Regions from separate parts of the Homo sapiens genome. Here regions 1, 2 and 4 are each reported to be linked to region 3. Evidence: microRNA targets listed by miRTarBase, many of them from high-throughput screens and not tested one by one. Region 3 holds a microRNA gene; each other region holds the end of a gene's coding sequence.

Evidence for each region. Region 3 holds the annotated microRNA hsa-miR-424-5p (CAGCAGCAAUUCAUGUUUUGAA, at 5,003-5,024, opposite strand). A microRNA usually pairs through its seed, bases 2 to 8, with sites in the 3' UTR of a target mRNA and lowers its output. Matches are read on the target gene's strand: a 7mer-m8 pairs with bases 2 to 8, a 7mer-A1 pairs with bases 2 to 7 and ends in A, and an 8mer does both.
Region 1: miRTarBase lists NFIC as a target of hsa-miR-424-5p. Seed matches in the 3' UTR shown: 7mer-m8 at 4,157-4,163.
Region 2: miRTarBase lists BSPRY as a target of hsa-miR-424-5p. Seed matches in the 3' UTR shown: 7mer-m8 at 4,294-4,300.
Region 4: miRTarBase lists SOCS5 as a target of hsa-miR-424-5p. Seed matches in the 3' UTR shown: 8mer at 6,461-6,468.

Annotation. Positions count from the first base shown.
Region 1 is chr19:3,459,183-3,467,294 of GRCh38, reverse strand. NFIC (nuclear factor I C) reads right to left here. Exons shown (of 11, transcript NM_001245002.2): 11 at 1-4,543. The coding sequence ends at 4,526. Among named protein-coding and RNA genes, the nearest start is that of SMIM24, 17 kb to the left of the region's middle. RefSeq lists enhancers at 1,102-1,602, 1,603-2,103, 3,685-4,220, 4,221-4,756 and a silencer at 3,033-3,233.
Region 2 is chr9:113,367,475-113,374,799 of GRCh38, reverse strand. It overlaps BSPRY (B-box and SPRY domain containing), which reads right to left. Exons shown (of 6, transcript NM_017688.3): 5 at 6,417-6,541; 6 at 3,578-5,184. The coding sequence ends at 4,658. HDHD3 (haloacid dehalogenase like hydrolase domain containing 3) reads left to right here. Exons shown (of 3, transcript NM_001304509.2): 3 at 271-1,378. The coding sequence starts at 446. The coding sequence ends at 1,201. Among named protein-coding and RNA genes, the nearest start is that of HDHD3, 5.8 kb to the left of the region's middle. RefSeq lists enhancers at 4,381-4,881, 4,882-5,382.
Region 3 is chrX:134,541,678-134,548,385 of GRCh38, forward strand. MIR424 (microRNA 424) reads right to left here and starts at 5,034; the gene lies at 4,937-5,034. It overlaps MIR503HG (MIR503 host gene), which reads right to left and starts at 4,953. Exons shown (of 3, transcript NR_024607.1): 1 at 4,875-4,953; 2 at 3,037-3,120; 3 at 1,700-2,322. MIR503 (microRNA 503) reads right to left here and starts at 4,721; the gene lies at 4,651-4,721.
Region 4 is chr2:46,759,827-46,767,906 of GRCh38, reverse strand. It overlaps SOCS5 (suppressor of cytokine signaling 5), which reads right to left. Exons shown (of 2, transcript NM_144949.3): 2 at 4,778-8,080. The coding sequence ends at 7,766. Among named protein-coding and RNA genes, the nearest start is that of LINC01118, 53 kb to the left of the region's middle.

The DNA.
Region 1 (8,112 bases), not on the chromosome of region 3:
ATTTGCATATATTTGGGAGGCCTCCCTATTCTTTCCCACAGCATGGGCAGACCCCAGAATGAGACTGGGGTGGGGGGGGGGGCCTGGCATAGGTGTGGTGTCCATAGCAGGGGTGGGTGATGGGGGCTTCCAGAGGGGGGTGGAACAAGATTTGAGAAGATGTCAGTTTCATACATGTTAAAAAAACAAAAACAAAAAACCAACACTCCCTCCTCCACCCAGGGATGACGGCACCCCCTTTTGTGAACCCAAACTGCAGAGATGGGCACGGAATCCTGCTTCCTGGTGTTTTTGTCTTACTCTGTCTGCAGCAAGGCGCCTGGGAATTTTGCCCTACAGGGACCCTGTAGCTTTTCCAAGAAACAGGGAGGCGGGGAGAACTAAACCATCCACAACATGCTGCCTGGTATGGGCTTTTGCCTGCTGTACTCAGCCAAGGTGCCAAGTGAGCCAAGGAGGCAAGCTCGGGGTGAGAAGGGTGGCGTCCAGCCCAGGACTCTGGGCCCCCGGGTGTGGGCTGTGCAGGGACGCGATGGTCCCAATAGTGATGGGGCCACCCACTCCCTTTGCCTCCGGTTGCTCCTAGTTCCTTGGCAAGACAGATTTGCTCAGGAGTGGGGCAGAAAAAAAAAAAAAGCTAGAAATCAGCTACATGAATGCTGTGCACAGCCAGCCCGGGCTCTCTGGCCAATGCATATTACTTAAGGGCAATGTCGTGGCCAGCTGTGGTGGTCTGGGCTCTCCCTCTGTATCGCCTGGGGAGGCTGCTGAGGTGACTTTTTGGAAGAAAACACGGGATGAGTGTATGATGGTGGCTGTGGAGACCACCCAAAATCCCGGGGTTGGGGGCAATAGTGAATGAATGGGACCATCTGCGTGGGTCCCTACACGAGATGCTTGGAGGGGCTGGAGGTGGTGAGGGCTGCAGGAATGGCCTAAGGTTGGAGAATCCCAGCCCTGGGTCCTCCCTGCCTGGCTGCCCCACTAACCATCTGGCTATTGTCTTAGCTTTGGTCAAGTAAAAAGCAAAGGAAGCTGGAGTTAAAAACAAAAAGAAAAGAAAAAAAAAAAGAACAAAAGAAAATAAAATCAAGGACAAGACAACAGCATGCTCAGCCACCGGACCACAGCCTGTGACTCGGTGCCACCTGGCTGTCCCTGTGCCCTGCCGGACCCTCGGCTGGGCCTCCAATGGCTGAGCCAGGCCCATGGGTACAGACAGACAGACAGATATTGCATATATCAGGTTTTGTTTTTGTTTCATACAGGATACCCTTCATATTCACAGCTGGAAGACAGAGACAGGGGATGGGGGACAAAGGAGAAGGTGGGAGAGAATGCCACCTGGGGTGGTCTCTGGATAGGGGAAAAGAGGTCCTTTGGCAAGAAGGGTGGGGATGCACGGGGCAGGGGAGAGGGGGTGCCTCTGAGGTGGGTGTGGAACAGCATTTGACCCTGAGCCAGGGGTATGCCAGCCTGCATGAAAAGTGGGGAGCGGGGAGTCTGGCTGCGGGTGGAGTGGCCACCCCATGGTTGGAGGACAGCCTGCAGTGGGTCGGTGAATGGTGTCTGGGGGCCGGCCCGTGGCCTAGGGACCAATCAGAGAGGAGAGCCCTTTCCCAGGGCCAAGATGGGCCCCGGAGGTCTGTCCTCTGGGCAAGGGATTCAGAAATGACCCCTCTGGGTACCCAAGAGCAGGGTTGGGGGTGGTAGAGGCTGAGCACCAGGGGGCACCCCTGAATACAGCAGGAGGGGAGACAGGACCAAGGACAGCCAGGGGCTGGGTAGACCTGGGGGCAATTGTTTTCAGTGGCTTGATTTTTAGCGTGGTTTTTCTTCCTTTTTTTTTTTTTTTTTTTTTTTTAGATTCTCACTTTCTTATTTTTTATTTTATTTTTTTTACAAATAGAAATACATCCCTTTTCAATTTTTATTTTTTATTTCATGTCACTGTTTTGTCTTTTTTTTTTTAAACTACACGAGCAGAACATGCAGCTATGTGTGTGCGCTGATATTGTTTAAAGGTAATACTTATTCTCGGAAGGCAAGGCACATCTTGTGGTAGAAAATTTCGTGCAAATTAGGAAACATGGAATTTTTTTAAAGGTTTTTCTTGTATCTTTTTTTTTTTTTTTTTTTTTTTAAAGAGGAAGTGGGGGGTGGAGGGGGCGAGGAACAGGGAGATAGAGCCAGGGATAGTCTGCCATGCATGTGTGTCAGCGCCGCCAGCTGACCTCGGGAGCCAGGTCGCAGGAGTCCTTGACTAAGCACCATGCAAAGTTAGGTAAAGAGTTGGTTCTCGTCGCGCCCTGACCCCTCTGGAGCCCGGCTGGCCTCCCTCCCCCACTCCACGACCCCCACCCTGGCTGAGAAGCTTCCGGACACCCCAATGGCACAACCCGACCACCCCCTCCCCCGCCCGCCCTCCCGGAGAGCGGCCCACGCTTTGATCCCCAAGGGCCACCGGGGGAGCGGGCCCCGAGGACAGACGGACGGAGGGACCAAGGGCTCGAGGCCAGAGGATGGCGAACCTCTCTTGGGGGTGATGGGGGAGGGTCCTGGGTCTTTCTCTTTAGGAGCGAGCGGGTTCGCCAAGCTCCTGAGGCTAGTTTGGGAGGAGAGTCTGGTTTTCGGGGGCAGGGGGGTGAGGCTAGGAGCAGGTGAGACCCGGAGACCTGCCCTGGCTTTGGCCTGGGTCGGGGGAGGGGGCAGTGGTGGGGGGAGTTTTTCCCTAGGCATGGAGGTCAGTTGGGGCTGGGCTGGGTGGGCCGGGGAGGGGTCCTTGTGTTTGAGCTCGGTGGCCCTAAAACACCTAACACCCCCTCCCAGGCCTCCCCTAAAGATGGCGATCCTGGGGTGGGGGTGGAGGTGTGGATAGGGCCAGGGAGCCGGGGTGGGGGGGCACCTGGCGTCCCCAGCTTAGTGTTTTTGGAGCGGCTCAACGGAAAAACGCTTAGCAGATGGGAGGCCCCCTACACGGCTGCGGGGGGCCCCAAGGTGCGACGCCGAACCCCCCGAAAACCCTCCCCGTTCCGAGCGGGGACCGCTGGCGTCGGCCTCCTCTCTCCTCTGGGGGCCCAGCCGTGATGCACGTCCCGCAGCTGGGCCCCGCGTCGGGGTAGGCGATGAAAGTGCAAACGGCGGTCCCCCTTCGCTGGGAGGCACCAGGGAGGGGGGTCGCTCCAGAATGTAAGGCACTGGCAGCGGAGGCGTGGGGGGCGCACCGGCTTCCCCAGAGCCCACCCCCGCGCCCCGGCAGGGCAGGACGCTTGCGAAGTGACGCCCAGCTCTGCCCCTCGGGCCACGCAGGGGCCCCATCTCTCTAGCTCTGGGGGGGCACGGCGATGAGGGTTGACTGGAGGGGCTGGTGGAGAGGCTGGAGGGGAGGGGGAGGAGGCCCGCGGCCATTCCGTGTCCCAGCTGGACAAAGGGGGGGGCGGGTGGTGGTAATCAGGCACTTAAACCACTCGCTCTCACCTCCCACCGCCAGGGGCTGACGGGGGCGCTCCAGACGGGCACCCCCAACTCGGGGAGCTCTGGGTGTCCGGGCTCCCCCATCCCCTTCCTCGGAAAGTGCATTTCTTACAGTGTGTGCAATGTGGGTCCCTCCCTTTGGGGGTGTGAGCCGGGCGAGGTGGGGGGGCCTCCTATGCCGGGGGTGGGGGGTGGAGGGGCCGGGGCCAATTGCATAGAGACTTCTCCTCCCAAACGGGCGGGCGCGAGGGCTGAAAGAGTCCCCAGCGAGACAGCGAGTCGGCCGGCGCTTTGGGAGGGGCTTGTGGGGAGGCCCCGCGGCAGGCAGGGCCCCCTCGAGGGGCAGCAGGTGCCTGGGCCTCACTTCCTCCCCTGGCCAGGGCTCGCAAGCGCCACGCACCCCCGCGACACCACTCGCCTGCCCCACCCTGCCCGCCTCTGCGGTCTCCGCTGCCCGGCCGGGGTCCGCTGTGTCTCCCTTTCCCCCCAGTGGCTGCGTCCTCGGTGGGGGCTGAGGGGCCGGTCCGTGTCCGGCAGAGGCGCGGGGGCCCGGGGAGAGGTGGCCTTGCTGGGTGTCGCGCCTGTCGGCCCTGGGCACAGGCTCCAGGCTGTGCTCACCTGGTCTCCGGACAGAGCCAGGGCCTCCGGGGCGCGGGCGGGCGGCCGGCGTCTGTCCTTCCCGAGCAGCAGGCGGAGAGGAGATGAATAACTTAGGAAGACGCCCTGTCCCGGGTCTCCCGTGGGGGTGGCGGGGCCTGGCCCTCCAGTCCTGCGGCCTTGGCGTCCCGAGAGTTGGAAACGTTGCGTCTTTACCTTTTGTCTTCTTGCTTGGGTGGGTTTTTATTTCTTCTTCTTCTTCTTCTGCCTTTGTTTTTTCTTTTCCTCCTGAGTGTGTGCGTCTATGTGTTTTGTCTTTTTGGCCGGGCTGGGAGTCGGCAGGGGTGTTCTTGTTCACTCTAATTTTCCACCGAAAACGTGGGCCGGGGGCCGGCTGTGCTGCCCCCTGGGATTCCTGGGACGATGGAGAAGGGGCGAGGGAAGAAGACCTTTGCTATCCCAGATACCAGGACTGAGTGGCCCAGTGGCGACAGAAAGAGGGAGAGAGAAAAAGGGAGAGAAGTCGAGGGGTCAGACTCTGCTGCAGACATGGTTTACCTCTTCCCACGCTCACCCCCCACCTCCTGCAACCCTGTGACCTCAGTTTCCCCATCCCAGGCTCTAACAACCTGCTGGGTGACCCATGGCAAGTGACTTTGTCTCTGAGGGAGGCTTCCAGACACAGTACAGGATGCCCAGTGAAACTGGAGTTCTGGTTAACACAGAATTCTTTTAGTATAAGTCTAGCCCACGCAACATTGGGGATATACTTACACACCACACACAAAAGATCCATTTATCTGGAACTGTATTTTATATTTTATTTATTATTTTATTTTTTGAGATGGAGTTTCGCTCTTGTTGCCCAGGCTGGAGTGCAATGGCGTGATATTGGCTCACTACAACCTCTGCCTCCTGGGTTCAAGCAATTCTCCTACCTCAGCCTCCCGAGTAGCTGGGATTACAGGCGTCCACCGCCACACCTGGATAATTTTTGTATTTTTAGTAGAGATGGGGTTTCACCATGTTGGCCAGGCTGGTCTCAAACGCCTGACCTCAAGTGATCCACCTTCCTCGGCCTCCCAAAGTGCTGGAATTACAGGTGTGAGCCAGCACTCCCAGTCTGGAACTCAATCTTACTTTATTATATTATATTATTTATTTATTTATTGAGACAGAGTCTCGCTCTGTTGCCAGGCTGGAGTGCAGTGGCATGATCTCGGCTCATTGCAACCTCTGCCTCCCAGGTTCAAGTGATTCTCCTGCCTCAGCCTCCCGAGTAGCTGGGATTACAGGCGCATGCCACCACACTCAGCTAATTTTTATATTTTTAGTAGAGACAGGGTTTCACCATGTTGGCCAGGATGGTCTCACTCTCTTGACCTCGTGATCCGCCCGCCTCGGCCTCCCAAAGTGCTGGGATTACAGGCGTGAGCCACTCTGCCTGGCCTTTATTTTATATTTTAAAAATTATTTTCTTCTCTATTTATTATTTATTTATGAGACAGAGTCTTGCTCTGTTGCCCAGGCTGGAATGCAGTGGTGTGATCTTGGCTCTCTACAACCTCCGCTTCCTGGGTTCAAGTGATCCTTGTGCCTTAGCCTCCCAAGTAGCTGGGATTACAGGCCCGCCCCACCACACCCAGCTAATTTTTGTATTCTTAGTAGAGACCGGGTTTCGCCATGTTGGCCGGGCTGGTCTTGAATTCCTGGCCTCAAGTGATCCGCCCACCTTGGCCTCCCAAAGTGCTGGGATTACAGGCGTGAGCCACTGTGGCCAGCCAATTTATTATTTTATTTTGAGACAGGGTCTTGCTCCGTTGCCCAGGCTGGAGTGCAGTGGTGCCATCATAGCTCACTGCAGCCTCCATCTCCTGGGCTCAAGTGATCCTCCCACCTCAGCCTCCCGAGTAGCTGGGACCACAGGTATGTTCCACCACATCTGACTAGTTTTTTTTTTTTTTTTGTAGAGGTGGGGTTTCGCCATGTAGACCAGGCTGGCCTTGAACTCCTTCCTCCCAAAGTGCTAGGATTACAGACATGAGCCACCACATCAGCTGCCTTGTTCACTTTATAAAGAGGTTTTTTGTTGATTTTTTGAGACAGCGTCACGCTCTTGTCACCAGGCTGGAGTGCAGTGGCACGATCTTGGCTCACTGCAACCTCTGCCTCCCGGGTTCAAGTGATTTTCTTGCCTCAGCCTCCCGAGTAGCTAGGATTACACGCATGCGCCATCACACCCAGCTAATTTTTGTATTTTTGGTAGAAACGGGGTTTCTCCATGTTGGCCAGGCTGGTCTCAAACTCCTGACCTCAGCTTATTCGTTTGCTTTGGCCTCCCAAAGTGCTGGGATTATAGGCATGAGCCACTGCACATGGCCTTGAGAATGTTTTTAAAAAGTAAACAAGAGGCTGGGCTCGGTGGCTCATGCCTGTAATCCCAGTACTTTGGGAGACCAAGGTGGGTGGATCACCTGAGGTCAGGGGTTCGAGACCAGCCTGGCCAACATGGTGAAACCCTGTCTCTACTAAAAATACAAAAATTAGCCAGGCGTGGTGGCACGTGCCTGTAATCCCAGCTACTCGGGAGGCTGAGGCAGCAGAATCGTCTGAATCCAGGGGGCGGAGGTTGTAGTCAGCCAAGATCGTGCCATTGCACTCCAGCCTGGGCAGCATAAGACTCCGTCTCAAAACAAAAACCAAAAAAACCAAAAAAAAACAAAAAAAAATTCTCCTCTTTAATGATGTCCCCGGTATCCCCGTGAAGGAGGGGGTAGGTCTCCCTCCACCGCTGTTTTGTGTGAAGAAAGTGAGGCCCAGAGAAGTCAAGGAACTTGCCCGAGGTCACCAGCATGGAAGCGGCAGAGGTGGAACTTGAACTCAGGCCTGTCTGGCTCTGGCTCTCATTTCTGCTCCTGCCCAGGGCCAACCCCCTCGCCTGCCTCTCAGGAATCCCCTTGGCATCTTCTGAGCACTGTCCTGGGCGTCCAGGGCCCATCCTGTCACAGGTCCCCCGGATGGCCCCCTCTTGCTCCACAGAAGCTCACTAAGCACAGGGGGGCTGAGGATGACTCTCAACCTCCCAGAGGCGGGAGACCGAGGCTAAGGGAGGGGAGTTCTGCATGGGGCTGTACCCAAGGTCACGTCATTTGGGGACAGCTCCGGCCTCAGTCTCTGCAGAGAAGCTGCTGTCCAGACCCCTGCCCTGGAAACGCAAACTCCAACCCCAGATGGAGCATCCAGGGTGGACTGTGAGGGGAGGGCTGTGCCTCTGGAACTGGGGAGACCCCTCCACTCCCCAACTGAGGTTAGAGGTGGGGCCGCCCCCCACCGCTGCAGCAAATCATTCAACAGAGCCCCTCCAACCAGGCAGCCACTGGGCCAGCCCATGGAACTGGCGCCACAGTGGTTCCCAGCGCCCCACCTCCAGCCAAGTTCAAGTTCATCTTGGCCATTACCTCATGTCTGGTTTCTGTTGGCAACCGACAGACTCTGGGCGTGACCCTCCCCGTGGTGGACCAGCCTCCCCTCAGCCCTTCCTCCCTCCTCCCTTCCCTCCCCTCCCCTTCCTGCCTGGCTGTGGCCCCAGCAATGGGGCGGGGGTGGGGTGGGGGCACCCTCAACTCCACATCCTCCCACTCAGCTGAGGGGAGACTGAGGCAGTAGGTGTGAAGGGGGAGGTTTGGGCTCTGGTATCCTGCTGGCCTGGCTGCAGCCGCCTGTGTGGCTCCCGGCATGTGGCTCAATGCCCGCCTTGCCCCCCACCCTCGGTTTACCCAGCTGCTTACGTGGGTTCCCGTGCAGGAGAAATGTAGGGGCGTGAAGGACATCACAGAGGGGAGGGGCCAGGGCGTCAGAGCCACCCAGCCTCACAGTGGGGGGATTGATAGGGACGGACATGGGGCGATGGGTGGGTAACTGACCAGGGCGAGATCAATTAGCATAGATCACGGGGAGGGATATTGATGGGGGGAGAGTCCATGGACTGGGGGGTGTCGGGAGCCGGAGAGGCAGAGGGAAAGGCGCGCCCACCCAGGCTTT
Region 2 (7,325 bases), not on the chromosome of region 3:
CTTACGGTATCTATTGACTTCATTATATTTAAGTGTTTGTATAGTTCTTTGCCTAATATCCGTATCCCTGTTCTTCAGTGCCTGTAAATGCCCTAAGGGCTGGAAATCTATCCCATATGCTAGCAGCTAGCTCAAAAAGGTGCTCAGAAATTTGTTGTGGATTCAGAGTGACTTTCCTAGGGTCACACCATTGGCAGCACCAGAATTTGAACCCAGTCTGTCTGATGTCAGGGCCTGAGCTTCCACCTTACCTGCTATTTTTCATTCTAGGATCTTGTGCTGTGAAGACATTTCCCAAGTGCTTCATGTTAGCCAGCAAATCTGACCCACAAGGCCTGGAAAGAGGTGATTGTTAGGTTGCGCAGAGGTGGTCTTATCCAGCTCAGCTTCCCCTGGGACCCACCGTGGGACCTGAGGCAGAACTGGGGTGGACTTGGCCTCCTCCATGGCACACCGGCTGCAGATACGACTGCTGACGTGGGATGTGAAGGACACGCTGCTCAGGCTCCGCCACCCCTTAGGGGAGGCCTATGCCACCAAGGCCCGGGCCCATGGGCTGGAGGTGGAGCCCTCAGCCCTGGAACAAGGCTTCAGGCAGGCATACAGGGCTCAGAGCCACAGCTTCCCCAACTACGGCCTGAGCCACGGCCTAACCTCCCGCCAGTGGTGGCTGGATGTGGTCCTGCAGACCTTCCACCTGGCGGGTGTCCAGGATGCTCAGGCTGTAGCCCCCATCGCTGAACAGCTTTATAAAGACTTCAGCCACCCCTGCACCTGGCAGGTGTTGGATGGGGCTGAGGACACCCTGAGGGAGTGCCGCACACGGGGTCTGAGACTGGCAGTGATCTCCAACTTTGACCGACGGCTAGAGGGCATCCTGGGGGGCCTTGGCCTGCGTGAACACTTCGACTTTGTGCTGACCTCCGAGGCTGCTGGCTGGCCCAAGCCGGACCCCCGCATTTTCCAGGAGGCCTTGCGGCTTGCTCATATGGAACCAGTAGTGGCAGCCCATGTTGGGGATAATTACCTCTGCGATTACCAGGGGCCTCGGGCTGTGGGCATGCACAGCTTCCTGGTGGTTGGCCCACAGGCACTGGACCCCGTGGTCAGGGATTCTGTACCTAAAGAACACATCCTCCCCTCTCTGGCCCATCTCCTGCCTGCCCTTGACTGCCTAGAGGGCTCAACTCCAGGGCTTTGAGGCCAGTGAGGGAAGTGGCTGGGCCCTAGGCCATGGAGAAAACCTTAAACAAACCCTGGAGACAGGGAGCCCCTTCTTTCTCCACAGCTCTGGACCTTTCCCCCTCTCCCTGCGGCCTTTGTCACCTACTGTGATAATAAAGCAGTGAGTGCTGAGCTCTCACCCTTCCCCCACTAACCAGCTCCTAGCCTCTGCCCTCCCTCATTCTCATTCACACCTGTGTCCCTTTTCCACTAGGAGTCGACTTCACATCCAAAGGATTCACAGAGGGCCCCACTAGCTTCAAAACCAGGCACTTTCAAACTTGGTTTTAGCAGCAGAGTCCTTTAGTTATGGGCGATCTGAAACCCCATTATGCAAAACTAAAAACAGACCCTGAAAAACTGCTGGAGTTGAAGCAGAGGTGCTAAGGTCTCTCTTTCAGCTTCTGAAAATACCCTCTGGAAGCCTGGGGTCAGTGCTTAGTTTGAAAAGCAGGATGCTAAGCCATTCTGTAGGGACACTGTCCATTAGCACCACATAGTATGAAGGGGAGAATTTAAACAAGGAACCCCATGACAGTCATGAGAAGAAATCCTGTTGACATATGCCTGCCCCGTGTTAGGTAAGGTGCTGAGTTACCTCCATGCACATATAACCCTCAAAGCTACCTCGTTGGGCCTAGGTGGTTTGACCCCCTCCACAACTTTACAAATGAGGAAACTGAAATTCAGAGGTTAAGCAGCCTGCCCGAGGTCACAGCTAGCATGCAAAGACACCAGGATTCCATTTAGGCACATCTGAATCCAAAGCCCATTGGCTTGACCACTAGGTTGTAAGTAGATGAGGATGCTTGTCATGTGAAACGTGGTACAGTGGAGATTCTGGGAGAATAGGGGAGGTGTCCTAAAGAATATCAATCTCAAAGGGCACCCCAGTCGCAGAGACCAGTGTGGAGGTAGGAAAGTATGGGGAACAAGGACTGCAGTGTAGGGAATAGGTTTGGAGGGAGGGGGGAAGAACTGGAGGTTGAAGTAGGTTGGGTTTTTCAATTCCTTTTTTCACTTTAGGAGGCTGAGGCAGGAGGATCACTTGAGCCCAGAGTTCGAGACTAGCCTGGGCAACATGGTGAAACCCCATCTCTTCAAAAAATGTAAAAACTAGCCTGGTGTGCTGGCACACACATTTAATCCCAGCCACTCGGAAGACTGAGGCAGGAGGATCGCTTGAGCCCACAAGTTCTGTTACAGTAAGCTACGTGCCACTGCACTTCAGCCTGGGCAACAGAGTGAAACCCTGTCTCTAAAAACAAAACAACAAAAAGTTCTCCTGCCTCCCCACCTTCCCACACCGTTCTACTTGGTATTTGCTGGACATCTGTGTTCCTTGCCCAGTGCCAGAGGATACCACACATTAAAAACACAGGCTGGCAGTGTGTTCTGGTGCCAGCAGCTAGGGAGGGCTCTAGAATGGATGCTGAATTCAGTAGTGGCATTGGGGGTGGCTTTAGATGAGCAGGGGGATGAGGAGGACATTGCTGCAGCAGGCCGATGAACTGTGGAATGAAGGCTGCTGTGAGGAGCTGGGTTGGTGGATTGGGAGAAAATGGCATGGGGGCCTTCAGGTGCCAAGAAAAGCCTTGGCTTTGACCCAGATTTTTGAGCAGGGGCTGTGCCCAGGCAAAGGCAGGGAAGATCTCTTTGGGACTTGACCAAACCCCTTTTGGTCTGTTTTCCTTGGGACTGGCACCAAGGCCAGGCAACAGTAATTTCGTTGTTTTTTTTTTTTTTGAGATGGAGTCTCGCTCTGTTGCCCAGGCTAGAGTGCAGTGTTGCGATCTCGGCTCACTGCAACCTCCGCCTCCCAGGTTCAAGCAATTCTCCTGCCTCAGTATCCCGAGTGGCTGAGATCACAGGTGTGCACCATTATGCCCAGCTAATTTTTTGTATTTTTAGTAGAGATGGGGTTTCACCACATTGGCCAGGCTGGTCTCAAACTCCTGACCTCAGGTGATCCACCTGCCTCAGCATCCCTTTGAGACTCTGTCTCAAAAAAAAAATTAATAAACAGTGGTTTTCAAACTGCTCTGCAGCTCCCAAAGAAAGTGGGGAGGGCTCTGCCTTTCATCTTCTTTGGACGCAGGAGCCTAAAGTTGTAGGTAAGATTACTTTTGAAGAGAGTTCCTGGACAAAAGTTTGAAGACCACTGTTCTAGGGTGAACTCCTCATGGAGACAAACATAAAGGGACTTGCCTTGGGTCTTGGTAATGTCTCCAGGCTCTTTCCGCTACACTGAGCTGCGACCCACTTATTTCCGAGAATGCAATAAGGGTATGAAGACAGGCCAGCGTACAGTATACACCCAATTATCAACAAAGAACATGGAATAAATCTTCAATGCTTTTAAGACCTTTAATAATGCCCACGTGCCCTAAGGTTGGCCCTCTTAACTCCCTCAGCTCTTTCTGGCTTTAAGCCATCACCCCAGGTGTGCAGTTTATGTCAGAGGGGGCCATCAGGTAGGGAAACTTATCAGCTGCTCTAAGAGAAAAGGCCGTCCCTGCTATTATCAGTGGGCACAGGCTGGAGCTCAGCCAGCAGGGGCTACAGTCGGGTTACCTGGAGACATGATCCCCTGGTCCTCTGAGGGCCTAGGCAGGACATGGGGGAGGACACGGTCCCCCGGGACAGAGTCCTCTGGCCAGGAGCAGCCTTTCAGGTTGCTCTTGTGTGCTAGAAAAAAATATTTTCTCTATGTGCCATGTCATGAAAAAGACAAAAGCACTGAGTTAATGGGATGTGGAAACTTTAGCCACAGGCTTCTCTGCCTGTGAAGAGAGCATTTCTGCATGTGAACAGCTGGAGCAGGAGGCTGAATGGCAGTGCTTCTCCAGAGACCACAACATCCACCCAGTCACCTGTCCACCTACATTCACCTATCCATCTATCCATCCACTCACCTGCCAAATATTTATTGCATGCTCACTATGCACCAGGCACCATGCTAGATGCCAGAGACAAAGTGAAGACACCCTCAGAGGGGCAGATGCATGGTGGATTTGGGAGACTAAGGCCCAGGGAGTAGTAGGTTCCCCACAGGTACCCAGCACTCAAAGCAGCAATCTCCAACCCTTTGAATGCAAGGACTTTTTTGCTTATCTGTGGTGGCAGATATCACAAAAATTATACACAGACTTTTTTTTTTTTTTTAGCTCATCAGCTATCGTTAGTGTATTTTATGTGGCCCAAGAAAATTCTTCTTCAAATGTGGCCCAGGGAAGCCAAAAGTTTGGACACCTGTGATTTACAGGTTATGCCTAGATCTGAAACAGATCCCCATCCCTCCTAAAGCTGCCCACTGGTTATGGGCCCTGTTTCTCTTAGAAACACCACACACATCATTTGGGAAAAGCACACTGAGTAGAAACATGGCCTGAAAGGGTGGTGGGCGGTGGACCTGGCTTCCTGTGGCCAGAGGTCAGCGGACGATAGAAATGGTCTGATCGGCCACAGCAAAGACTGGGAAGAGGGGCCCCGGGAAGGACACATGATGGGCACAGAGCACTGTGCCGGAGGCTGGCTCATAGAAGAGCAGCTCCTGAACCTGCAAGTCCAGCACTACACCCAGCTGGGCTGGGCCCCGCAGCAGCCCCAGGGGCTCGTGCTGCCCATTGTGTGAGAAACGAAACTCCTGATCATAGCGAGAGAAGACCCAGGAGAAGGCATTGTGGCCCAGACGGCAGTCACTGCCAGAACCCTTGCGGGGCAGGTGGCCTGAAGCCACGCCCACCTTATAGGCACAACTGTTCTGGACATTCACCATCCAGGCATGGAGCCCATTCTGGAAGGAGGTGGCAGCCAGGGCATTGGGCCAGTGGTCGAAGCGCTCCGGGCCATCTGCACAGGCCTTTGACTTCTTGGTGCTGAAGGTCAGGGTCTTTCGATCATCTGACAATTGCAGGAAGGGGCTGACTGTCCTCTCATCGATCCGTATGTCCTCTGTGCCTGCCAGAAAGAATTCTCAGAGTTGCCGAGGGCCCACCCCTGCCCTAACCTGGTCCTGCCAGGTAGCAAAAGGTTCCTCACCACTCACTAGCATGGTGACCTCATATAAGCCATTTACTCTCTCTGAGCCTTGTCTGCAAAACGGGGGTCAAAATAGGACTTCTCACTGGGTGATCACGAGAATTAAACAGAATCATACATGTAAAGTGCCCAGCATGTAAGTGCTCTATAAACTGTAGCCTTCATAACAATAGTTACTATCAGTCAAGACCCTCAACTGTAAACTCTGATAGAAATAAGGCCCAGAGAGAAAAAGGGAGTTGCCCAAGTTTACACACTGACTTGGTGGGAGGGGCAAAATGAAGACAAAACATTTTGTTCCTATACGTAGCACTGATTATACTCTTTCTACTTGGTCATATCTGTGGCCTCCAGATTGGACGTGTCCTAGAAACACAGCCTCTGGGAGCTAGGAAGCATGAGATAAGCAATTTCTAGCAAATATCTAAACTGCTGGTAAATCAGGCATCATTTGATACCAGAATCTAGAGTAGAGAAGCTACAGCTTCTACCAAAATTGTAAGGATAATACGAGGAGGGAGGATTAAAACTGAAAAAAAAAAAAAATCAGTCTATTAACCTAACTGTTCCACGAATTGTGAAAGACTACCATTGGGAGAATGGAAGCTTCCATCTAACTTGGAGGAGGCCTGCTCTGGAGAACCTCTGTGCTAAATGGGAATTCCTGGAGGCAGAAGACCATGTCAGTTTACCTCTGTGGCCCCAGCATGTGGCACAGGGTGGGGCCCACAGTTGGCCTGAGTCAGTGTGTGTAAAGTGAATAAGTGAGGCAAATCAGGCAGTTTGATTCTTGGTCCAGATGTTCTTCAGTTGGCCATCAATTTTATCTTCTTAAAGAGAAACCCCAGGTTTCCAATAAATAATACTGGGCTGCCCTAGTAGGTCAGGATATAAGGAAGACATGACTTATAGGAATGAGATTTATCTTTGACCCAACCACAGAACATGTTAGTCCGGAAATGGGAAGGACTTGGCCCAGCTGCCCCAGGCCTGTCTGGAACCTTGACCCTACTGACCAGCCTGCATCCAGCATGACTTGTTTAAGCTATCATCTCAGAAGCACGGGTCCCCATTGTGAACCAGGAGTGAACCCCAGACAGACAGACAGAAGCCCAGTTGTCCTAATGGTCCTGGGCTCTACTGCTCCTAACCTGAGAGAGACCCAAGAACCGCCGTTGCCCAGAGTTGGGTCAGTAGTGGGCTCCGAGTGCACTTCTCATTAAAGTTTAACATTTCCGACTCCTGGGGATCCAAAATGCCCTCTGCTTCTTCGGTCCTTATATGGGGAAAAACAGAGACAGAGATTCAGGATGGTTCTGGAAATATATCTGGATCAATATGGGGTGAAGAGAAGAACAGAAGTAAAATCTCCTATCAGGCGATACCAAGATTGGCAGCTAGGGCCAGGTGCAGTGGCTCACCCCTGTGACCCTAGCACTTTGGAAGGCCTGATGTGGGAGAGGATCACTTGAGCCCAGGAGTTTGAGACCAGCATGGGCAACATAATAAGACTCCATCTCTACAAAAAATTTAAAAATTAGCTGGGTGTGGTGGCATGCACCTGTAGTCCCAGCTACCTGGGAGGCTGAGGTGGGAAGATTGCTTAAGCCCAGGAGTTCGAGGCTGCAGTGAGCCAAGATCATGCCACTGCACTCCAGCCTGGGTGACAGAGTGAGACCCTGTCTCAAAAAAAAAAAAAAGAGTGGCATCCAGGCCCCACACAGGTGCTTGGGCCAAAAGGGAAGGTGGCCATTTCCCCTGTGCCCCCCAGAAGCCTTAATTTTAGCAAAGCTGGTGGACAGTTTATAGGAAGATGTGTTCTTGGTGCCAGTATTAGAAATTGAAGGTGGTGTGCTCTGCAGAGGAAGCAACTTGCCAGAGTCCCTCAGTAAGTTAATGGCAGAGCTGGGGCTAAGACCTCCTGGGCCTCTGGAACCCCTGCACGATAGTCTTTCTACTCCAACATCTTGCCCTTGCCTGGAAAATATCTCACCTCCCTCTCAGACCTGTTGGGGCAGTCATGTTTCCCTGGGTTTTGTCAGAAGGTACAGCCACTCCTC
Region 3 (6,708 bases):
TCTGCTCCTATTTTTCAATCATGGTGTCCATGTGATTTTGTGGCCCTGATTTTTTTTAAGTTGATATCATAAGCATTTTCCAGGTTTCTGTATATTCTCTATCATTATTATTTGCAATGGCTGAAAAAGGTTCCATTGAGTGAGTGACTAGATTAAGTCAACCCCTATAGCTTGACACTTCATTTGTTTCCTTAAGATAATTTGATTGAATCTACAGAAAATAACAAACATGGGACAGAGGTTTAAAATGAATTTAAATCATGCTTTTTTGGTTTGTGCAGATTGACTTGTACACGGCTGGGTAACTTATAGTCACTATTTAGTAATCCTGGGGCCAATCTTGGGCCTCACCCAGGAAGTGTCCAATGTATAGGCCAAAGCTCATCATAAGACTAGCCAGTTTCACCGGGAATTTTTGTAACCAAACACATTCACCTCCATTTCCTGCTCTGGTCACTACTGCATAGTCGGTTCTGATGAACAGGTAATGACATAAGGAACACAGTATGAGGCCTGGAGGAAGAGCCCCCAGAGAGTAGCCTCAGACAAATCCTTAACCTCCAGAGGCCCCAGTTTTCTTGTCTGTAATTATTTTTTGGACTGCCTTAACTCTGTTTGTCTTTCAAGGTTGTCACAAATTAAAAAAAGAAAAAAAAGAAAAAACAAAGTATTTGGAAAAGTATGTAAACACACGATACAAAGGCAAGATGTTGGGATACTGATGATTCTGTGGCCACGCCTTTAGAAGGTCTGGTCTTAGGGTAATAGTCTTGTCTGGATGGCAGGTGGGGGTGGACATGGGGGAACAGGTGAGGGAGCTGCCTTGGGAGACTCAGGCTTCAAAGCAACCCAGACTCTCACTGGCAGGTTGCTGCAGTGTTCTGAGCTCCCTGACTCCAGCAGTGGAGCCAAGGCCATGTTTCCAAACACCCACCAACTGCTCAGATTATAGAGCTCAGTAGTGGAAGGGGGAGTGCTCAAAGGCCCAAGCAACCACAGGAAGTGGAAGTCTTTCGGGGCTCCTCCCTCTTGGCTCAATTTACTATCCCCACAGGGGTTTTAAGCCTGGCTGAACTTGCCAAAGAGATCAGCTGTGGAGCTGGGGAGGAGGGAAAAGGTGGCAGATAGGTGAAATATTATGAAAGAGCTAGCCGATCCTTGTTTATTCACTGAGGAGTAACTAATGGGTGGGCCTGAGTGGGATGTAGGGGGGCAGGGAGATACACGTTTGCTACACTTGATGTATATATACTCTTTTTTGCTTAAGAGTCATGTAATAACTCTAAATACAAATGCATATATAAAATTCTAGGGTTATGAGATTAAGTCATACTGCAGGCCAATGGGAAAAAAGATCTCTAAAAACATATGCCAACTTGCATATAGCCAGACTCAAGTCTTTTAACTTCTATCGATAAACTCATTGATCTTCCCCAAACATATTTTTTGAACCTAGTTTTATTTTCATCTTACACAGCCTCAGGAAAGCTGCCTATAACTCCCATCTCATAGGCTCAGGTTTTCTGCAAATGTTGCCCTGAGCTCTATAGCAGTCCAGGATTCAGGGAACGAACCCAGTCCCCCGCTGCCCCATTTGCCTTGATGAGTTGATAGGTATGGTGTTTTAAAACAATCAGCAAAACAATTTGCACTGCAGAGTCCTTAGGAGTTTTTTTTTTAATTGGACAGTTGCCCATATTAACGGAAATCAAAAGCAGCATACAGTCATTCAATGTCCCAGCACTGGAGTACAGCCCACTGTTTTCCTGTGTGGGGTTCCACTTTAGTTCTTGTCTGTGTGCATGCATACATTTTTACAGAGTTGTGACCACTGCCTTTTTCTGTGACCCTGGTTATTGACATCTAGTTTTCCAAGTAACATTGACACACATCTGTTCAAATCAGTTGAGGTTCCCATCATGACTGACTCATTTGGCGGGAAAACCAAATTTACATGCCAATTGGAACAAAGAAGTGTGGGTATGGGGGAACAGCGGGGGGAAAGAAATGGTGGGAGAGGATTCCTTGGACTTACAGATCATAAAACATTTCCCAATAACATTTTTAAAGGATGTATAATATTACACTGAGTGATTGATTATATATTACCCTTCTATTTGGGACACTTGGGTGGTTTTCAATGCCTAGAGTTTTAAAATGCATATAAATTACAGCCTTTGAGAGATGATTGTATTTTCTTGAAACAGGAGTCTTCTGTGTCCAGGTCCCCGCCAACAGTGTTGATGTAGTGTTCCTTTGTTGGGGGGAAAAAAAATCAGTACTGCTAACTGGAGATGCTGGATGCCTTCAAGAAAAACATTCCTGTGATTTAAATTTTTAAAAAATTATGTTCAATTCTGGTTTATCAAACAACCTGGGTATCTTGTCTCACAACTTACCGAAATGTCGAATTTTAGATTTAGAGTTAGACTAAGCTCTTCCTAGTTTAAGGGCCACGTCTGTCTAATAAACTTTATACAATGCCACGTGCACGCAGCTTCCTCACTAACAAATAACATGTGTTGGGGAAAAAATGAGAAAATAGTGGAAAGGTGCCTCCTTGGAGGTGGTAACATCGGGTCAATTAATCAGCTGAGTATAAATTGATTCACTTTATACAAGTCTCCCACACATTATGATGCACATTTAGCAACGCTGAAAAACAATTTAAAAGAATACCTTAGGGAGTTGTTAAAGAGAATTTATAGTCTGGAACGAATTGCAATCTTCTTAATTGACACAGAAATGTTTGGCTAAAATATTGCTTTATTCACATTTTTGTCCTTGGAGGAAAATCTAGGCACACTGCAACTTGGATCGTGTAAATAAAGGTACAAGGAATGTTTTAAGTCAGAAAAGGGCATCACGCAGTCAGGGGGCTGTGTGGACGAGCTCAATTTCGATGCATCTCGGGAGACCCGGGCAAAAGGCCGCTTGGATTCCGGGAGGCAACGCCCCCAAGTCAGGATCCCTTGCTCGCCGCCCCCAACCGGTCAGGATCCCTGGCTCGCGTCCCCAACCGGTTCCGTGTCTCACCTGGGTCCTGCAGGCGTCCACTGGAGGAAGCCGGATGGCGCGGGCTTGGTCTTTCAGGAAGGCTGGCTGGCACCGGGCTTCCTTCTGGCTCCAGGGGGAACCGTACAGGACGGGGAGAAAGGGGGAAGCTGGTGAGAGGCAGAAGGGGCGTCACAAGGTGGCTCTCCCACCCCCAAGTGCAAAGGCAGGCGGATGCGGGGACCTGTTCGCCGTTTGAGCCTGGAGATTGCGGGCCTGAGGGGCCCTGCGCTGGCCGGCCGGGGCGAGGCGGGAGCAGAATGGGGATTTCTAGGCCGCCGGGTCGGGCTGGTGGGCGGCGCCCCGGGAGCCTGAGGGTCCCCGCCGGCCCGGGAGGGACCCGAGCCGCCCCCGCGCACTGCCCCGGCGCAAGGGAGTCTGGGAGAGCCAGCGTCTCGGGCCGCTGAACCCGACTCCCAGCTCTAGACTTCGGAACCCCGGCCCCACCCCAAACTGGGAAACTTCTAGGGGCCCACTCCTGGCCCCGGGAAGCCCAGTTCCAGGCAGCCCATTCAGACCAGAGGAGTTTGGGTGTCTTTTTTTTTTCTTTAAGGTGACAAAAAGTGTGGGAAAGATTCCACACCTCCCTCCCCACGCCCGCCAATGGTCCTTTACCTGTCCATGTTTCAGATTAAATAATTAGCTCAAGAGATTTGCACAGAAAGCGAATTAGCCCTTTTCTAGTCAGACTGTTAAGCTCTCAGGCGGGCAACTCGGAACCCCGTTTCCTCACCGAAGGCTCAGGAGGCCAGCCCAGTGAGGGATGGAGGTGGCTTTAGAGGGCGACAGTTGTGCAGCACTCATGAGCAACAGTGCCCAGGACTTTTGAAGTCACGAAGGGCTCCTGAAATCGACAGCTCAGGTCCCGCCCCTGGGGCGACAAAGGAGTCTTGGGGGCGTGCCGCCGGGTTGGAATTGTGGTAGCAGATTTTTGGGGGAGGAGGGCGCAAAGCAGCTAGAAACGCACATCCTCATTCTGGAACTATCCCAAGGCCCCCATGCTTCTCAGCAGGCCTCGGGCTCAGATTGGGCGGGTTGGAGCCTTCCACCCCACCTTGGGTTCACCCGCCCGCAAGGCCTCGCGCCTCACCCGATCCTTCTAGAGTGCTGGAGCTCCACGGAGCCTCCCTAACCCCCCAGCAGCGGGGAAGGGAGGGCGAGGGAGTGGGGAAGAGGCCCGTTATTTTGATCTTTCCTGAATTCTTAAGTCCCTTCCATACCCAGGACATGAGCGCGTTTACCAGGAACCGCAGAGAGGTGTAAAGACTTCTTGCAGCTGCTCACCCTTCCTCTCCCCTTACTCCTTTTCCAGTCCTCCCCACCCCCCAGCATTTCGTGGGTGGGGACTGAAGATAGGTTTTCTTCGTTGTCCTGTGGGTGGTATTCTGATTGGGAAGGGATTTTTTTCAATTGTTTACATTCTACCTGAGCAGGGAAAGGGGGTGCCAAAATGAAGCATCATTCACGTCCAGTCACATATGCAGAGACGGGGCAAACGTTTGATGCAATCTTGGGTCTCGCTGCTCCCGGGGCCGACACCGCAGGCGATGGCCTAAGACTTACCTGCTGGGTAGGCCCGAACGGCAGTCCCAGACTTACCCTGGCAGCGGAAACAATACCCCAGAGCACCGATCGCTCACTGCAGAACTGTTCCCGCTGCTAGGGCACGGCTGAGCGCGGGCACCGCGTCTCTCCTCGACTCGCACCGCCTATGCGCCCCAGCCTAGCCAGGAATACTGCCCTCCCCGGACTACAGCCCTGCTGCGTGGACAAGGGCGAGGACCCGCCGGAAACAGAGACGCGAGCCCCCGCCCACCTACCTGCTCCTGAGCCGGCCTCGCGGGGAGCGGGCACCTGGTGGCAGGAACACGCGTCCGGCAGACCCCACCTTCTACCTTCCCCACGAGGGGGTATAGCAGCGCCTCACGTTTTGAACCATTTAGAACACTTCAAAACATGAATTGCTGCTGTATCCCCTCGGAGTCAATGAAGGGGGATCGATCTGGGGGTACCTGCGGGTGAATAAAGACTGGATGACTGAAGGAAGCCCCGCCCCACCCCCTGGCAAGGAATAGGGCAAAACTTATGACTAGGCCACTTCACTCCAAGTTAAGGTACTTCTTATAACTTCACCATTTGATTTCCAGGAGCTGCAGGTGGAGCCGAAAGTGTGGCTCTCAATTTTTTCCCCTGAGGATGAATCTTGGAACAACGTAGTGGGTGAAAAGCAGAGCGATGGGGGATACGAATTAGTGTGGAAGAGAATCTAATTACTTCTGAAGGTAGACGAATAAGGTTAAGTAGAGGCAATTGGACATCTGGATCATTCTTGCCAGTTTCAAAGTCTTGGTGAAACTTCTTCCTGCTGCATATTACAAGTCTCATTCATTGTCCCCATTAAAAAAAAACAAAAAACGAAACAAAAAAACAACCTTTATTGGAAATGGACTCAGATGACTGAAAGAAAATAACCAAAACCTCACCGGTAGCTTCAGCTGATTCTTACACTATCGTTGCGACATATACATCTATCTTTAAAAGCATTAGATGTCCTAACTCACTGCTAGTGTTTTTATTCTTAAACACCCCAGCTGAGTTATTTTAAAGAGCTCCAAACAATGACAGAGAACTTTCTGTAGATGAAATACCAGTTTACATATTAAACTGGTTACTCAAACTTATTTATAATTTATACCTATCAATGTCATCTATCAAAACATAAATCAAAAAGTTTAAATACTTGATGTCAAGTCGCTCCTTCCTGTTTCAAGCAGCTCCACAGAAACTTTCATGTCCTGAAATGGCCGGCACTGCGCATACTCCTTAATGATTAACTCATTAGATACCACTTTTTCCTTTTTAAAATGGACACATATTAGCAACAAGTCACATGCATGCCCTCTTTTTGTTTGAATACAATATTCAATTAAGCATTAAAAAAAAAACCCACTCTGAAATCCTCAATCACAAACCTAAAAGTTAAAACAACAAAATCAGCACTAACTGTAATGGTTTTGAAAGTTAAATACATTTCAGCACAAGTAATAGACATTTAAATTATCCAACTGTAAGTATCTTGTTACACTTACAAATTAAGTCGGTTTTTCAAAACCAGTACAATGAATGTTAAGTGTCCTATTTATTAGTTAATAAAATGTGCAGAGTATTTAATAAGATTAAGTATCGAATTTATAACATCCAGACTGAGATCCAGTGGTAACAAATACACTATGTCATGGTAAAAAAAAAAAGTCATTAGTAACAATAACCCCATTCCCTAAATTGCGACAATCAAGTATCTCTACATTCCATCTTGTTTTGGCAATGATATTTACAAACAACTTTTACACTGACTTTGGGATTAATGGAGAAAAATGTCGTTGACTGCCCTTAAAAAGAAAAAAAAAACATGTTTAGCAAATGTACAATTATCATGTAAAACTCCACAACTTTCTCCCAACATTTTGTTCCACACAAATATACGAGCCATCATGTCAGAAGTTAAAGTCATGCCTAATTTAACATTTCCTTAGTTGACTACTTAGAAAAACAAAAGTTCATTCGAAACAGCATCGGTGTCAAAGGCGAAGGTCCCTTCCAGATTGCTCTTGGAATCAAATTCATTTATACCTTTCACCCTAACCCCTTTCATCT
Region 4 (8,080 bases), not on the chromosome of region 3:
TGGGAAAGATACTGGAATGAGGGAGCTTTGAAAGGCGGCCAGTGTCAGGAGAGTGGTGAGTAAGGGGGATAGTTGTACTAGATTAAGGTTGGAGAAATCGGCAGGGGCACTCCCCAAATAAACTGCAGAAGATGAATGAAGGAGATTCTAGTGGCCAGTTCTTTCAGTTCTTTTACCAATGGTTTAGAATCCATTTTTTATCAGTTATGTATAGCCTATTGTTTTGAAATACAATAAAAGAGAACAAAACATTGAAAGAAATGTTAATTTGGTTGATACAATTAGAATTCAAAGAGCAAAGTATAGTGGATCAGCACTTAGGCTCTGGCCTCAGACCAGTGTTTGAAAACTAGGTCTAACATTCTCTATGGCCTTAGACAAGTTATCTAACCCCTCTAAGCCAGGTAACAAAGACAATATAAGGGCTGGCACAGTGGCTGACACCTGTAATCCCAGCACTTTGGGAGGCCAAAGTGGGCGGGTCACCTGAGGTCAGGAGTTCAAGACCAGCCTGGCCAACATAGAGAAACCCCATTTCTACTAAAAATACGAAAATTAGTCGGGCGTGGTGGCGCACACCTGCAATCCCAGCTACTCGGGAGGCTGAGGCACGAGAATTGCTTGAACCCGGGAGGCAAAGGTTGCAGTGAGCCGAGATCATGCCACTGCGCTCCAGTGTGGGTGACAGAGGGAGACTCTGTCTCCAAAAAAAAAAACAAAAATAAAAATAAATTTTAAAAAAATTCAAAGCAGTTTTCATACTTAGTAAAATTGAGAAATGAGAAAAACTACAATTATAATAGTGTTTTGGGGATTAAATTCAGTAACTCTCTCTTAAGATTTAAGATTGTGCCACTTTTTCTCAGCACTTTTGTCAAGTAAAAGTTTTTTTGATGTTGCTTTTTTTTTATGTTCCTATTTTCTCACGTAAGCATAGTTAGCAGTGATAGTTTTCCTTATTTGATCAAATCTTATATTTTTTGCATTAAAATGTGCCTTTTAAAAAGTTATCCATAATTAAAATGTTATCCATAGAAAAGTCATCCTATTTTCTCCATGTAAGCAGTTAGTAGTGATGAAGTTTTCCTTATTTGATCAAATATTTATTTTTTGCATTAAAATGTATTCTAAAATGTTATCCATAATTGGATATCCATAATATCCAATATACATGTTTTACTTTACTGTAAGTTTACGATTTACTTTACTGTTGGCTTATGATTTGCTTAAATTTGGAGAAACTATGACATATTTAACTAGAAGTCTCCTAGGCATGCGAACTGCTTGTTTTTCCTTACTGAAAATTATGCTGATTTTTCTTCTGCATGTGCTCCTGTTTGATTCCAGTGCTAGCGACCTGATCTAGGCAAATTTCACAGGACTTCCTAACTCCAATCCCTCTTGGTTATACGCTATCTTACACCTGCTGCCATAATTTCTAATTCTTCCTTGCTGCAGAGCCTAGATAATTTCACACTGTTCAGTCCAGTGTATGCTACAATCACCTGATTCCTCCACCTCAATCCTGCTCCTCTTCTGTTGCTACCTGCCACTCTACTTCTGCACCTGGCCTCTCCATCATCTTCTGCTAAATGAAATTCTCATTCTCGTGATAAAAGAAACCCAATACCTTCCCAATCAACCCTACTCCACTTGGGTCACTTTTCTGTTTTTTCCTTATCACCAGTGAAACCAGTTTTTACTTAATTACTTTATTTCCACATATTCTCATAACTATACATTTACATAATTGCCTACATCCCCACCAGTTTATAAACTTAGTCAACTAAGGGTCTTAATCTTCTACTGAAATCCTATTTCAAAAAAACCCTTCAGTAACTGACTCAAGATGTACAACTTTATCTTTCATGTGATTTTTTTTAACTGTCAAAAATACATGAAAAAATATGAAAGAGAATGTACCAAATATTAATAGCAGTTACCTCTGGAAAATTTCAAAACGGGAGTTGGAAAGGGCAGGGGTAGTGTTGGTGGTAGTAATGTACCTCAATATATACCCATTACCTAAAACTGTGACTGGCACATGGGTCTTCAAATTAATATTTGTGGAATGAATGGTCAGAGTCTAAATATTCAGTCAACAGTATGAACATTTTTTCGTAGGTTCTTTTATAATCTTTAGTACTTCTTGAATATTCCATAATGAACTTTGATTTATCATATAAAAACTCAAACTAAAAAAGATACACAAGCAAATTTGACATGGAAAGCATGACAACCAAATTTGATGTGGGTAGTATGAAGATTCAGCGCAAGGTTTGATTCCAGTATCTTAAAAGTTTTTGGAAGACAAGTCCTCTATCGAAAGCAGATGGCTTTTAAAAACAACTAATGATACAGAATCTTGAACTGACAAACTAAGAGAAATGTTGTCGTAATTATTTCCTCCAAAGAAATTCTTAATCCCATGCAAAATCCCTAGCTGTTGCATACTGTTCTGTGGCTTCAAATACTATCAATACAGTGACTCCCCATTTCATTTTTAGTATTTTTTTAGAGGAAGGAACTGGCTCTGTCTCAAGTGATCCTCCTGCCTCAGCCTCTCAAGTAGCTGAGACTACAGGCGCATGCCAACCCACCCAGCTAATTTTTATTTTGTAGAGATGGGGTCTTGCTACATTGCCCCAGCTGGTCTCAAAATCCGGGGCTCAAGTGATTCTTCTGCCTTGGCCTCCCAAAAGTGCTGGGGTTACAGGTGTGAGCCACCATGCCTGGCCTAGTGATTCCACATTTTAATTTTCTCCCCTTAACACTACACTCATATATCCAACTGCCTACTATGCAATGTCTCTGTTAGAATTATTAATAGGAATCTCAAAACTCAATCACCCTTCTCACACCAAAAACTGGAGTCATCTTTTGATCTTTTTCTTCTTGTTCACATCTAATCCATCGCCAAGTCTTATCAGCTTTACCACTAAAACATACCCCAATTCTGACTTCTCCCCATGACTATCACCCTAGTCCAAGGTCCCACCATCTCTCACCTGGATGACTGTAAAAGTCTTCCTTACCTTGTTCCACTAGTCTTTTCTCCACTGACCAGAGAAATTTACAACACACCACACATCTCCTTTGCTTAAAACTCTCCAATGGCTTCCCATCACACTCAAAACAACATCTTAAATCCCTCACTATAGGCTTATAGCCCTAAATGGTCAGGCCCTTGCCAATCTCTAAAACCTCATCACCTACTATTCTCCACACTCAATGGACTTACCTTACTGGCATTCTTTCTTTCTCAGCGAGTAATTCCATATGTGCTTTGGGGACTAGTTTTATTGTTCTCTTCATCTCGAACGTTTGTTCTTTGGTCTTGGTCTAATTTTCTTATATCATTCAAGGTTACGACCCTATAAAATTGTGCCCCAGTCCCTCCACCACCATGTTCTGCCTCATTTTACTCATAGCTTCGGAAATTACCATTTCATTGCTGTCTTATCTACTAGAATTCAATAAACTCTGGAAGGCAGTAAAGCTTTGTCTTATACCCCAATGTACACCCATTACTGAAAATAGTGAGTGGCACACGGGTCTTCAATAAATATTTGTTGACTGCATGGCTGAAGAGAGTCTCAATGTTCAATCAAGCGTCCAGGGCATGAAAACAAAACAGTTGCTCCAACTCATCTATACTTTGCAATAGCAACCTCTCCTCCCGTCCCCCACAAATAACCAGCTACCTCCCACAAAAATTCCACCCCAAACCTCTTTAGAATATACTATTTTAAAAGCCTATGTTCTGGATCAGCTGTTGCAAAATTATAAAACAAAACCAGAGCCTCAAAAATATGTAGCTTGTATGCACACGGGCCAAGCAGCATTGCCCTCTTTCGAAACTTTCTCACCCTTGAGTCAGCCCTTGCTATGCATTTCTATCTAATTTCATCAAAGTAAAACTGTATGTGCTGGGGTACAGGTAAGCAAACAAACTGGTGCTATTTGCTCTATGTTAACACTCTCAAAGACAGACCTGGCTCTGCATCCTTCTTAGGAGGGTCCTATGGCCAGGCGCGGTGGCTCATGCCTGTAATCCTAGCACTTTGGGAGGCTGTGGGTGGATCACCTGCGGTCAGGAGTTCGAGACCAGCCTGGCTGACATGGTGAAACCCCGTCACTACTAAAAATACAAAAATTAGCCGGGCGTGGTGGTGGGCGCCTGTAATCCCAGCTACTCAGGAGGCTGAGGCAGGAGAATCACTTGAACCTGGGAGGCAGAGGTTGCAGTAAGCCAAGATCGGGCCACTGCACTCCAGCCTGGGTGACAAGAGTGAGACTCTTGTCGCAAAAACAAAACAAAACAAAAAAAAAAACAAAAAAAAAGGAGGGTCCTGATTCACTCACAGGCTCTTTGGCTCTACCAAAAAGCAGTATTTGCTATAAAAATAAGAGATCTAAGACCAGTCTCAATAAAACTCACCAAATTAGTGTTCAGTGCCAGAGAGAAAAGCAAGCTTTGAAATAAACATAAATAGCAACCAGATCAAAATGTGAAATAAAAAAATTCTTAAGCTTTCGATTTTGTCAAATGAAGCTTAAAATTCAAGTATCAGTTCTTACGGTTCTAGCCATTATAAATCTTACGTAAACATAAGAGCTAAAAACAGCCTGGTGTGTGGAGAATGATTATTTGGGCTCAAGTTTTGTCTAAGAAACATAAATTTAATTATAACTCTTAGTAACTATTTAATCCAAGCTGTTTTTCTTCAAATATTTTGTACTGTGTTTAGCCAGAAAACAAAATACAGATGAACTCTTTCTCTTTGTAAGGTGACTGTATTATAAACAAGGCTAAAGTAGCAAGGCTAAACTTTTAGTGCAGATAATAAAATTCGAATAGTACAAGAATACTCTTTAGGTAATATCTATAGAATAAGATCTCTAAATGTTTTTGTATCAGGTGGAAATGCCATCTAAAGTAATATTAACAACATAAATGTATATATGTGCATACATAAATATATAATACACACTTATATGTATGCGGAAGGGAGAGGTGTGTGTGTGTGTGTAAGGGAATGAAGAAAATGAATGAGAATGGGTACAAATCAAAGCAACCTTTTCTTGGGTTAATTATTTCAACTATAAAGATGTATCTCAACTTCTAAAGAAATTCCTGGTTTGTATTTAAATGCACTTTAAAAAGACCGTTAACACTCAAATTTAGTTGACAGGCTACAATGGGATTCAGAAAAGGACACAGTGAATATAGACTTAGGTGCAAGTTCATGCTGGTGATTTTTCTTTTTTAAAATGTAAGCCACTAATATTTTAAGACAAAAATTTAAACCAAAAATTGCATATTAATATTATACACAAACTGAAACATGTGACTTTTAGCACAGTGTATACATGCTTACATAAACTCAAACACATTTAAAACAATTTCCATTTAACATATGAAAGTTTTGAAATACATAAAAGCATTAATACTTTCTATAAAACTACAGTTAGAACATCAATTTGCTACAAGCATATAAAAACATCAAGTGCTTTCTTGGAGTTTCAAGTTTCCTCTCTAAAACACAATCTTGCTCACATATATAGTCCTTTTCCAATAATCAGTATGAACTTTTCTTTTTCTCAAGAGGTTTATTTTCCAGGTACATTATAAGCTCAAGAAAAAAGACCCAACAATTAGGCAATATAATTATGTCATAACAACTTAATTGCACATAATGCTTTAAAGTAGGTTTGGATGAAGTTCTCAAACACTTTGGTATATGATCTTCAGGGACTTTAATTAGAAACAACAGAAATTATAAGTCCCTTCAATCCCCATTTTGCTTTAAAAGGGACAAGTCTTTGGTTAAAGTTCTACATTTTGGGCATTTATTTTTAATTAAGATGGTCCCCAAACCAATAAATGGTACTGATCTATTACAAATTCACAAGACTTCATTTAACCTGCTTCTGATGCAGTGGGAGGTTACAGATACTCATTTACTATAATATGTCATTGGATAGTTTCAATCTTTCATTTATAAGCAGAGAAATCAATAGGTTTATTACTTCTCTGTCAGTTTTCTGTTATAACCTAAACTGTACAGTAATTTGCAGTAACTACAGATACTGTTCCACAGTATATATAATTATGACTGATAAGATGTAGAGCATTAAATTTAGAGTTAGCTTATTCTGATAAGTCAATATTAGACTGTTCATTAACTCTGCATTAACTATAGAAAGGTTGTTAGTTAATGCTTATTTAAAAACCCCAAACCATTCCATTTACAAGAGAAATTGTTGCAAATGTATAAAACAGCAGATATACAAGGAGAACACCAAACATACTTTATTAGCACAAAAAAAGCAGCCATAACAAGGCACAGCAAGCAGAAACATACATTAGCAGTCAAAAGGTTAGTGTTGCATACAAATATAGCTTTCCTTTTTTGTAGCCTTGGCAATAGCCATAGGGATGTAAAATAACATTCTGTAGCAGCAGGTAAGGAAACTATGGAGCACTCACCAGTGGTACAGAGCACATTAACGAAAAGACATGAGAGTGGATTCGGCTACTTTAGTGCAAAATGTCTAGGACAGAACTGTAAATTCAGTTCAGTTACTAAGAAGCAAACACTAGAACTTGATATAACTTCCAAAAGCGCTCACTCAAGTAGTAGTACATATTATTCTAAGTGACAAAAAGGTGCTAAGTTATTTACAGATATAATGGTTGTACAGTACCTTTTAAATCTGCAATTTAGGTTTCAGATTTTCCATTAAGAATGAACTGCACTGAAATTCTATAAATTATACTTAAGCAATTCAGTTATGAGAGTTTACAAAAAAGAGATAAATTCTGCCATCCAAATTATTAATTATAGTTCAACAATAATCTCAACATCAGCAACCATTGTAGTTACTATTATCTGACTTGTTTGGGCGTCTTCTAGTCTCACGTACTTCACGGTTCACAAAATCATCCTGGGCATAGGAACAGATCCAACTTTTATGAAACAACAATTAGACTGCACATCAACTTAAAAAAAAATCACACACAAGACTACATTGCAGCAGCTATTCCAAACGCCTGTTTTAAGTTAAAGCACTCATTTAAAAAATTAATACCTAGGCCTTTCAATAAAATTCTACTACTAGCTTTGTAAGTCTGAAATTTTAAGAATGCCTATTTAGAAAATCTGGTTTACTTAACAGTACCTTTTGCAGAAGAGAAAAGGCGTCTGATTATAAACTACATCAACACGTAAGTGAACTGCACTATGCCCTTGTGGCCAGAAAATTGCATTTTTTTCTAAAAGGAAGGCAGTCTTTTATTCTTTTTGGACTTCCAAAGCTTGATTTATAGTAACTACAAACATCACGACTTTTGGAAGGTTATAGAAAAACTCTTAGAAAAAATAATTTCAAACATTAGTCACACTGTTGAAATACTCATCCAATATTAATAATTTGTTCTTCAGTAAGAAATAGAATTCTTCATAACAAATGCCCCAGAGTTGCCTCACTCAAATACCACAGCCATTAAAAACCAAACTGTTAGCGAAATAGGCAAAATGTTTTTGTAGTCTTACTGAACACCTGTAGCTCTATCCGCTATTGTTCCAATAGGCACCATGTTTATCTGAATAAGTAACAGCAGGTAGCATCTGACAGATACTAACACTAAGCTTACATACTGTATGAAAAAGCCTAACACTGCTACGTGTGCTTGCTATAGGTGTACTGTCTGATGCACATGAAAGCGGACCTAGTTAACAACCTTTGGGGACCGGAGAGTTTACTTTGCCTTGACTGGTTCTCGTTCCAACCAGCGAACTCTAACTTTTTGTTTATAATGATACTCTTTTAAAAAATCCTGTAACATTGAGGGTAGAGGGAGCCCATCAATTCCATCATACGTAGTGCACCTGCAGATTACCGCGCGACAGATATACTGCAGGCTAAAAGGGAAAGTCCTATTTAGTGATATAGTAAGCAATGGTTCAAAAAACATGCACGAACTGGGATCTTTATAATGTTCTAAAAGTCCCGTTACAGTGGAGGAGTGAAATACACACGGGTCATGGGCGTCGAAACTAAAGTTGTGATTCCA